Regions from separate parts of the Homo sapiens genome. Here region 2 is linked to region 1. Evidence: fine-mapped expression QTL. A gene starts in region 1. The other region holds a variant in brackets. All regions are shown on one strand. Distances are from middle to middle.

Region 1 (5,226 bases):
TAAGAATTCCCTTCCAGTTCCGAAAACCCAATGTCCTATCAGCTGGATGAGGACGGGATCAGCTAAGATGTTCCCCTGCCCACCTTCCTCTTCCCTTTGGGAGGTCTCTGTGTGAGGGCCAAGGAAAGTCTCAAGAAGTAAAATTGGAAAAGGGAGCCTGCGGATCACCCCAAGGAAAATCCAGACTGATTCGATCAGTCCTAGCTGGAAGCAGCACAGGAATAGCAGGAAGCCTATGACTCATTTTAAGCAAACATCCGGTAACCCGACTGGTATCTGGTTCAAATGGGGAAACCTGAAGCACCTATGACAGGCCAGGCCCAGAGAAGATACTGCCCAGATGGATACAGCGTCTGCTCTGGAGACCCTCCCAGGCTGAGGAGGAAACTGCCAAGAACAGTGTTAACTCTGTCAAAGAGCCCCAGAGTCCCAGGCCAACTGCTGTGGGGCTTTGCATCTTGCTGTGGGCACCTGCAGGAGGGAGAGACTCATGAAGTAGCATTTGACATGGGCCTTGTAGGTAAAAAGGAGAGGGAAGGTGGAAAGAGGATCCACATCTCAGGAACTTTGAGAACTGGGAGAGTTACACTCTGTCTAGAGCTTCAGTTTTCTCATCTCTGTGCTGGGAAGGGTGGTAATGATGCCCACTTCCCTTGTGGTGGTGAAGATTAAATGAGCTGTGTGTAAAAGGATATGGCATGATCTGTTAATTAATTAATTAATTTATTTATTTATTTAGAGACGGAGTTTCGCTCTTGTTGCCCAGGCTGGAGTGCAATGGTGCGTCTCGGCTCACTGCAACCTCCGCCTCCCGGGTTCAAGCGATTCTTCTGCCTCAGCCTCCCGAGTAGCTGGGATTCCAGGCATGCGTCACCATGCCCAGCTAATTTTATATTTTTAGTAGAGACGGGGTTTCTCCATTTTGGTCAGGCTGGTCTCAAACTCCTGACCTCAGGTGATCCGCCCGCCTCGGCCTCCCAAAGTGCTGGGATTACAGGTGTGAGCCACTGCGCCCAGCCTGCATGATCTGTTTAACTTTTTTTTTTTTTCTTTTTTCAGTTTTTGAGACAAGGTCTTGCTCTGTCGCCAGGGCTGAAATGCAGTGGTGCAATCACGGCTCACTGCAGCCTCAAGCTCCCAGGCTCCAGATCCTCCTGCCTCAGGCCCTTAGCTGAGACTACAGGCTTGCACCATCACGTCCAACTAATTTTTGTATTTTTTGTCGAGACAGGGTTTGACCATGTTGCCCAGGCTGGTCTCACACTCTCTCGCCTATAATCCCAACACTTTGGGAGGCCAAGATGGGCAACAAGAGTGAAACTCCATCTCAAAAAAAAAAAACAAAAAAAAAACGCTGTTTGTGTTTTTATGCTTAAATTCACACCTACAGAAAAGTTGCAAAAATGTTCAAAGAACTCCCATATTCTTCAACCAGATTAACTGATTAACATTTTGCCACATTTGTGTCTCTGCTTTCTCTATGTATATGTATAGGTATATTTCTTTTAACCATAAAGGTTGCAGACATCATGTCCTTTTTGTCCCTAATTATTTCAGCATTTTTTTCCAAGAACAAGGGCAGTCTCTTACATAACCCTGTACCATAATCAAAATTAATAAATTTAACATTGATACAATACTATTATCTAATATAGTCAAGTTTTGCTGTTTCAGTATTGTCCTTTATAGCAATCCCCACCCAGGATCCGATCCAGGACCATGTCTTGCATTCAGTTGTCTTTTTCGTTTCCTGTAATCGGCAACAGTTCCTCAGTTTTTCTTTGTCTTACATAATACAGACATTTCCGGAAGGGTACAGATCAGTTATTCTGTACCATGTCCCTCAGCTTGGGTTTCTCATGATTAGACTAAGGTCATGCATTATAGACCGGACGGTGACGCCGTGTTTTTCTCAGTGCATCACACAGAAAGCGTGCGATGAATGTCAGCTTGTCCTGCTGTTGATGTTAACGTGGCCGTTCAAGTGGTGTCTGCGGAGCTTCTCTACGATAGTTACTATTTCCCCTTTTTAATTATCAGGTAATTTGTGCATATTTATGTGGAAGCCTTCGAATGCCCTTTCAGTTTCATGGGACGGAAAAGAGTCTTTTCTTTCGGGAAATGGATACCTGTGTCTTGCCCAAGAGACCCAGCAGCCAGCAGTACCTGTTATCAACAAAGTTACGCGAACAAAACCTTTCCGGAAGAGCTGAGGGACCTGGGTGCAACGCATTCTGGGAATTGTAGTCTCTGGGCGCTCCCGGCTGAACACCTCCCTGCGGTCTCTGCGAGAAAGAGCCAGAAGCCACCAGGGGAGGGCGAAGAGGAGGGCGGTGGAGGACGCTCTGCGCGCGGTGCGCCATGGGACGGGTAGTTCGCGGTGCGCGCCCCATCGCGCTCCCAGATGGGGAACCGGACTACTCTACCCGAGAGGCCGCGCGAGCGGGGCGAGGGCAAGCCGGCCGGGGCCTCGAACAAATCAAATCGAAGCAAAGAAACTGCCGGCTTTCAAAATCCTCCTCCTCCGCCATCATCCGCCGCGGTGCGGAGAGCAGGTGGTGCTGGAAGCGCGTGAGGCCGGGAGCTCGAGAGAGCTAACAGACTAGCCGGCTGGACATCTGGACCGCTGGATCCGGAGGTGGCGACCCCGGCCTGACCCGGACCCTAAATCCGTCCCCGCCCCAGAGGGCGGAGGCGCGCGCTCGATTCCCCCCACGCGGCGGCGCCGCCTGTTTACGGTAGAGTCAGGGTCCCTTTCCTTTCCCCGTCACCTGCCTGGAACAGGGGTGCGGGGCGAGGAGGGCGTGGCGCCCGTGTGCGCCTTCTGCCTGCCCCCTCGGCCTTCTTCACTTAGCCTTCGACGGCCGAGCGCCCCAGGGGTGGCGGTGGGAGTGGGGTTGTTGAGCGGCGCTGGCTCCTTTCACAAATGGGGAAACTGAGGCTTAAAGGGCGTCTGACTCGCCAGAGCAGCTCAGCCTGCAGCTGCTAGCAGTGGCGTCTCATATTAGCATTGTTGTCAACCGGAGGCGGTGCGAGTCCGCCGGGGATTCCAGATGGGGCTCCTGCGCCGCCCGCCTATCATTTGCGGCCTGTATTCGCGCGTCGCTCCCGCAGAGCCACCTCCCAGCAGGCCCACGCCCGCGGGGGCCCCGGGCTGGCGCCGCTGTCCCTGGAATCGATGTGAGTCACTGCTGACGCTTTGCAGGAGCATGCATCTCACCTCAGAAAGTCTCTGACGTTGCTGCGGAGCGGGGAGAGGATGTTTCTCTATTAGCCCTTTGCTTTTGCTCTGGCGCTGATCCTTTGCTGACCTTGGACAAATCAATTTACGTTTCTGTGCTCCAGTTTCTTGGTTTATAAAGTGAGTGTGGAGGGGTGCATCTCTGTCTCGCTCTCTCTTGGACTGAGGAATGGGCCCCCGTTCAGCTGAGAAGTTCTGTCCCTATTCTATCTGGAGGCTTCACCACCACCTTTTACCCTCAAATTGTCCCATCTCAGAACTGCAAGAGATGCTGGGGTTTCAGGTTAATTTTTTTGTTGGTTTTTCTTTAAATTTTTTTATCTTTTTAGAGACGGTCTCCTTCTGTCACCCAGGCTGGAGTGTAGTGGAACGATCACCGCTGAACTGCAGCGTCGGCTTCCTGGGCTCAAGCGATCCTCCCACCTCAACCTCCCAAGTCATGGGGACTACAGATGCCATCACACCTGGCTAATTTTTAAATTTTTCTGTGGAGACAGGGTCTCATTCTGTTGCCCAGGCTTGTCTCGAACCCTGGTCTAAAGTGATCTTCCCGCCTAGCCTCCCAAAATGTTGGAATTACAGGTGTGAGTTATTGCACTGGGCTGGTTTCTGGTTAATTTATTTTTTGAAACAGGGTCTCCAGAAGTACAGCAGCAAGATCTCAGCTCACTGTAGCCTCCACCTACGGGGCTCAAGTGATCCTCCCACCTTACATCCCAGGTAGCTGGGACTGCAGGCACCTGCCACCACACCCAGCTAGTTTTTGTATTTTTAGTGGAGACAGGGTTTCGGCATACTGCCCAGGCTGGTTTCTAACTCCTGTGCTCAATCGATCCGCCCACCTCAGCCTCCGGAAATGCTGGGATTGCAGGAGTGAACCATTACACCCGACTCTGGTTAATTTTTTTTTTTTTTGAGACGGAGTTTCACTCTTGTTGCCCACGTTGGAGTGCAATGCCACGATCTCAGCTCACCCCAACATCTGCCTCCCAGATTCAAGCGATTCTCCTGCCTCAGCCTCCTGAGTAGCTGGGATTACAGGCATGTGCCACCACGCCCGGTTAATTTTGTATTTTTGGTAGAGACAGGGTTTCTCCATGTTGGCCAGGGTGGTCTCGAACTCCCGACCTCAGGTAATCCACCCACCTCAGCCTCCCAAAGTGCTGAGATTATAGGCGTGAGCTACCGCACCCGGCCTGGTTAATTTTTATTTTATTTTATTTTATTTTATTTTTTTGAGGTGAGTCTCGCTCTGTTGCCCAGGCTGGAGTGCAGTGGCGCAATCTCAGCTCACTGCAAGCTCCACCTACCGGGTTCATGCCATTCTCTTGCCTCAGCCTCCCGAGTAGCTGGGACTACAGGCCCCCGCCACCAGGCCCGGCTAATTTTTTGTATTTTTAGTGGAGACGGGTTTCACCGTGTTAGCCAGGATGGTCTCGATCTCCTGACCTCGTGATCCGCCCACCTCAGCCTCCCAAAGTACTAGGATTATAGGTGTGAGCCTTTGCGCCCGGCCCTGGCCTGGTTAATTTTTATGCAATTTCAACTGGTCGTTTCTTGAGCACCTTCTAAATGCCAGGCTCTATGTGGCAAGTAGAGTGATCCTGTCAAAATGTACGTCAGATGACATCTGCTTTCTGCTAAAAACTTCAGTGGTTTTCCTTGTCACTTATAGCGAAAGCCACTGTTCTTCAAATGGGCTTTATGACTTGGGCCCCTTGTTAACTGTCTCTTCTCTTACCTTGTTTTTTTCCTCTCTCTCTGTGCTTCAGCCCCACTGGCCCTGTTGCAGTTTCTCCAACCCTCTGCCCCTACAAGAGCCATTGCATTTGCTATTCCCTTTGCAGGAATCATGTTCCCCCAGATGTGTGCATGGCCCAATCCCTGATATCTTTATTTAACTATTTCCTAATAATGCCTTTTTGTTGTTGTTGTTAATGCCTTTTTGTTGTTGTTGTTGTTATTTGTTTGTTTTGAGTTGGAGT
Region 2 (5,226 bases), 22 kb after region 1:
CCTGTAGTCCCAGCTACTTGGGAGGCTGAGGCAGGAGAATTGCGTGAACCCAGGAGGTGGAGGTTGCAGTGAGCCAAGATCATGCCACTGCACTCCAACCTGGGTGACAAAGCAAGACTCCGTCTCAAAAAAAAAAGGAAATTCATTTCAGTGATTGCATGTTAAAGAATTTCAAGTTAGGCCAGGCGCAGTGGCTCACGCCTGTAATCCCAGCATTTTGGGAGGCCAAGGTGGGGGGCGGTGCACGTGGATCACCTGAGGTCAGGAGTTGGAGACCAGCCTGGCCAACATGCTGAAACCCTGTGTCTACAAAAGTACAAAAATTAGCTGGGCGTGATGGCAGGGGCCTTGTAATCCCAGCTACTCAGGATGCTGAGGCGGAAGAATCACTTGAACCTGGGAGGTGAAGGTTGCAGTGAGCTGAGATTGTGCCATTGCATTGCAACCTTGGGTGAGAGAAAGCGAGACTCCATCTCAAAAAAAAAGAATTTCAAGTCAGAAAAGATGGTGAAGAGAACTCTCTTTTGCATACTCACTGTGGAATTCTCACTGTGCAAGTTTTGCCTAAATTTTAGCATTTCATTTCCCTGAGCTTTCAGAAGGTATTCTTTTGGTTTTTGTTTTCTTTTACTTGACTCTGTAGGAATGGGGAAGAGAAAGTATTCTTATCTCTATGTTCCCAATCGTGAGAATAAATCTTAAGAGGGGGATAAGAGAATTTGGGGTTAGAAGATGGCATGTGGTGGAGTAGGCACAGGGTGTTTGAGCAGCTAGAGGTCAGTTGAGGCCAGATCGCCAGGGGCTAGGCTTTTTTTTTTTTTTTGAGGCGGAGTCTCACTCTGTTTCCCAGGCTGGAGTGCAGTGGCACGATCTCGGCTCACTGCAAGCTCCGCCTCCCGGGTTCATGCCATTCTCCTGCCTCAGCCTCCCAAGTAGCTGGGACTACAGGCGCCCGCCACCATGCCCGGCTAATTTTTTGTATTTTTAGTAGAGATGGGGTTTCACTGTGTTAGCCAGGATGGTCTCGATCTCCCGACCTCGTGATCCGCCCACCTTGGCCTCCCAAAGTGCTGGGATTACAGGCGTGAGCCACCGCACCCAGCCACCAGGGGCTAGGCTTTCTGTGGGTAGGGCAACGAGAGGACACATTGCCTTTTGCTTACTGAGTGGTGGGAGGATGGTAGAAACTGCCTCATCTGCCATATCTGTGGCCAGGGTGAGGGCAGAAAGTCTCCCTTCCACATTCCTGCCCCCATGGACCACCTGCTCAGCCCCATTTCTGACCCAGTCTCTGGCAGAGCCTCCTCTCTGACCATTTCTCCTGGTGGGGTGAGGGAATGTAGCTCTCCCCAGCCCAGGAGGTTTCCAGGAGAGCTTCAAATCACCCTGTCAAAGCTGATCCTGGCCGTGGCTTAGAGATGGCCACCTCCATCTGCCAGTCACCACCAGAAACCCTGGAGGCATTTGTGGTTCCTCCCTCCCTCCTCCTGCACGAACAGGGAACCAACAGCTTCTGCATGTCCCCTGCTCCATGAACAGGCAGCTCCTCTCCCACACTTGTCACACCGGCTGGCAGGTCCCCTCTGTTGCCAGTGTCGCTGCCTCACACTCCTGGGTGGGCACTCCAGCCCCCCTTTCTGTGCATCTGCTCACCTCAGGTCTGGGGATATTAATTCCATATCCCTCAGCCACCTCAAAGCCCACTGCTCTCAGGCTGAGGCTCACAGTCCTTGGCCTGGCATTCAAGGCTCTTGCCTGATCTGACCCCTCACTTCCCTTCCACCCAAAGCCCATGCCACGGCTTCTTCTGGAGCCTACCCACAGCTTTCCTCCAGGCTCACAGCCTGCTGCTTCATGCTTATGTCTCTCTGCTCCTGTTTTTTCAGCTGCCTGGAGTCTTTTCATGTTGACTAGCTGATTCTCATCCAGACTAAGTCCAAATGCCACCTCTTACAAGGAGCCTTCCCGGGCCACTCCAGGCATACGCATCCCCCACTCTCCAGCTGTTAGGAGCCCTTTGCAGGGTTTCCAGTCTTAAGAATACTGAAATGGTTTGTGTCTGTGTTGGTTCTGCACCAGCCGGGGTGTCCTTGGAAGGCAGAGCTGGGCCTGGCACAGAAGCAGCACCCAGCACAGAAGCTGGGTGTCTATGAAACTGACACGAGCTTCCTCTGTGCCCAGATCTCACTAGGGGAAGGACTCATCACAGCTGGGGCTCAGCTGGTGGAGCTGGACTTAAGCGACAACGCATTCGGGCCCGACGGTGTGCAAGGCTTCGAGGCCCTGCTCAAGAGCTCAGCCTGCTTCACCCTGCAGGAACTCAAGCTCAACAACTGTGGCATGGGCATTGGCGGCGGCAAGGTGGGTGTGGCAGCCCCCTCCC[C/T]GCAGAGTCCCCTGGTCCATCCACATCCGTCTGACATATGTGCCCTGGCCCTTGGCCACCACCATCTGGGATGGTCAGCCGTTGTTTTCAAAAGAGAAAGGCCTCAAAGGCAACAGCCTGTGGCCGGAGGGTAGAGGCGTCCATGAGGGTGGGGTTGCCAAGCAACCATCCCCAGTTCTTGGGTTGGCTTGGCAACGCAGAGGGAGTGCCACTGCATACCTGCTCCAGCCTGCTGGCTCTGCAAAACTCAGGGCTTGGGGCATCCCTATACTCACTGTACCCGCAGAGCAGCTGGTAGAGCCTGGCACATAGGCAGAGGGAGTCTGAAAAGAGGAGCATATGCTCAGGGGGGGCACCGTCACAGCTCACCTTTATTCCTAGACAGGGCCTTGCCCAGGGAGGTGTCCTCAGGCAAGGTCAGTGTAGAGCTTCACGTTGGGCTGGTCAGTGTAGAGTGGAGCTTCTTTGCTTCCCAGAACCTGCATCAAGGGCGGCCTGCCGTATTATTCTCTTCCAACTCCATCCCAGTGCCTTTAGACCCAGGGTTGGAGGACACTGAGTGCCAGGCTGCAACCCCTACACACACTTTCTAACCAAAGGGAGAAAAGGGCTGGGGACACAGAAGTAACAGCAGTTGGGGATATCTTATTTGAATATGCAATACCTTAACTTTTCCCACCCACACTGAAAGGTGGCTGATGCCATCCCAGTTTTTCCACATGACTCAGCATAGGCTTAGAGAGATGGGGTGGAGTGGATCACATAGCTAGTGCTGTGAGGCCCATGGAGCCCCAGGCTGAGGAGCTGGAGTGGCCTCCCCTGCAGAGGGTGCCTGTGTCCCTCGGCCTGACGTGAGGGTGAGCAGGGGCAGGCTCTGTGCCTGCCTTAGCCAGCCCTCCCCCAAGTCCACTTGGGCAATAAGCTATCCCTGTGTTAAGATGTAAAAATGGGCCGGGCACGGTGGTGCAGTGGCTCATGCCTGTAATCCCAGCACTTTGGGAGGCCGAGTCGGGCAGATCACCTGAGGTCAGGCGTTCGAGACCAGCCTGGCCAACATGGTGAAACCCCATCTCTACTAAAAATACAAAAATTAGCTGGGTGTGGTGGCAGGTGCCTGTAGTCCCAGCTATTCGGGAGGCTGAGGCAGGAGAATTGCTCGAACCCGGGAGGTGGAGGTTGCAGTGAGCCGAGATGGCGCCACTGCACTCCAGCCTGGGCAACAAGAGCAAAACTCCGTCTCAAAAAAACAAACAAACAAACAAACAAACAGAAACATATAAAAACGTTTGCGTCAGCACAGAAAGCAGGCGTGGCCCAACCTAGAGTGAGTGGCATACGCTGGGAGAGCCAGAGACTCTATTCTAGCAAAATGCTTCGGTTTTCCTTCCATTACTTCCCTTCTCCTGCCCAGCAGTGCCTGGAAACTGAGGCTCAGGGAGCTTTCCTACTGGCCAGGAGTTGTCTGGCCTGTCCTATACTTGTAATGGGGTGAGTTGGGGAATGAGTTTTGGACCCAGGACCAGAGGGCCTCCTGGGCAGACAGGCCTACCCTGGAGTTTGATTGATGGTTCTCTGTGCCTCCCTGACCACTGATTTGATTAGGTCTCTGGGTCTCGGCCTTGCTGACCTATGCCTCTTGGGAGCTCAGACGCCATGGTCTGGGTGTCTAACCAAGGCCTGCAGGTCCTTTGGAATCTTTTTCTTCTGGGCAGTGTGTTTAGTGTGGTTTCTGTGCCATGCACCATGAGAATAGAAGGGCCCAGAGGAGTTGGTGGGGCAAGAGGCATGGCCCTGTGCTTGAGAACTCTCCATACCCAAGTTGGACTCCTGCAGGAGCTAAGGCCATCACCACGTGGCCTCCAGGGAATCTGGGAGAATGGGGGTGACCTAGCAGTCGGCTGCTGCTGCTGAGTAGCTTCCTCAGAGGCTGGTCTTTGGCAGAAGTTTGATGTCTCTACCCTGAGTGTGTGCGTGATCGTGTGTGCGTGATCCACCATCACCACCGTGGAGTCAGGCAGGTGCTGGCTCTTCTGTTCCTCAAGGATGGCTGTGTGCAGTCTCATGCCAGGAGTTAGGCCAACCCACCCGCCATGTGCGGCTTTGCTAAATACTTACCGGGTGACCTTGGCCAATTCACTCATCTCTCAGAGCCTCAGCTTCCTCATCTGTAAAGTACGGCCAATCCTGCCTGCCTCCCAGGCTGGTGTTGAGGTTGAAACAAGAAAATATGCCAAGGATGCCCAGGCCCTAGCAGGTGCTCTGCAAACATCAGGTGTTCTGCAAATATCACTTCTCTCGGTGCACTCGCTCGTGATTCTTTTATGTCGCATTTACCATGGGCTCTGATTCCCATCGGTCAGTCTCCGTTTTTCAGTGCTTTTCCTAATGGTGTAACCAGGGTAGAAGCTACTTCCTGGCACCACACCAGGGACAGGGCAAGCTGGGTGTTAGGTTTTTACCACCAGCAGGCAAGCTCCTGCTGTGCCTGGCCAGCTTTTAGGCACAGGCAGGTGTCAGACAGGTTCGTCTGGACCGTGGACTTGGCAGCTGGCTCCCTTGGACATTGTGGAACGTGGAAGAGAAGCTGGAAGATTTGGGCTTTGGTCCAGAGTCCACCACTTGTTTATTGACCATAAGAAAGTTTCCGTTCCTCTTACCCTGAGTTTCTTCAGCTGGAAAATGGGAGCCATGATTTTCCCACCTAGCAGAGGGCCTTAGACAGTGAAGTGAGCTGACTAGGAAGTCCTTCCCCTGGACCTGGCTAAAAGTTCATCCACTCCATGTGGTCTCTCCCTTTCCTGAGTAGGGCTTGGTCTCCCCGTCTCGAAAGTGAAGCTAAACCT

What was found. PIP is the estimated chance that this variant, and not a neighbour inherited with it, causes the effect. A credible set is the group of variants that fine-mapping cannot tell apart.
Region 2: its variant is the best candidate, but not a certain one, in a credible set for the expression of RANGAP1 in whole blood (INTERVAL, PIP 0.60).

The regions. Positions count from the first base shown.
Region 1 is chr22:41,283,498-41,288,723 of GRCh38, reverse strand. It overlaps RANGAP1 (Ran GTPase activating protein 1), which reads left to right and starts at 2,537. Exons shown (of 16, transcript NM_002883.4): 1 at 2,537-2,738. RefSeq lists enhancers at 1,645-1,694, 2,015-2,084, 2,115-2,334, 2,765-2,834.
Region 2 is chr22:41,261,799-41,267,024 of GRCh38, reverse strand. It overlaps RANGAP1 (Ran GTPase activating protein 1), which reads left to right. Exons shown (of 16, transcript NM_002883.4): 5 at 2,182-2,361. Among named protein-coding and RNA genes, the nearest start is that of MIR6889, 11 kb to the right of the region's middle. RefSeq lists an enhancer at 2,030-2,905. The variant C/T (reference allele first, on the strand shown) is at 2,384.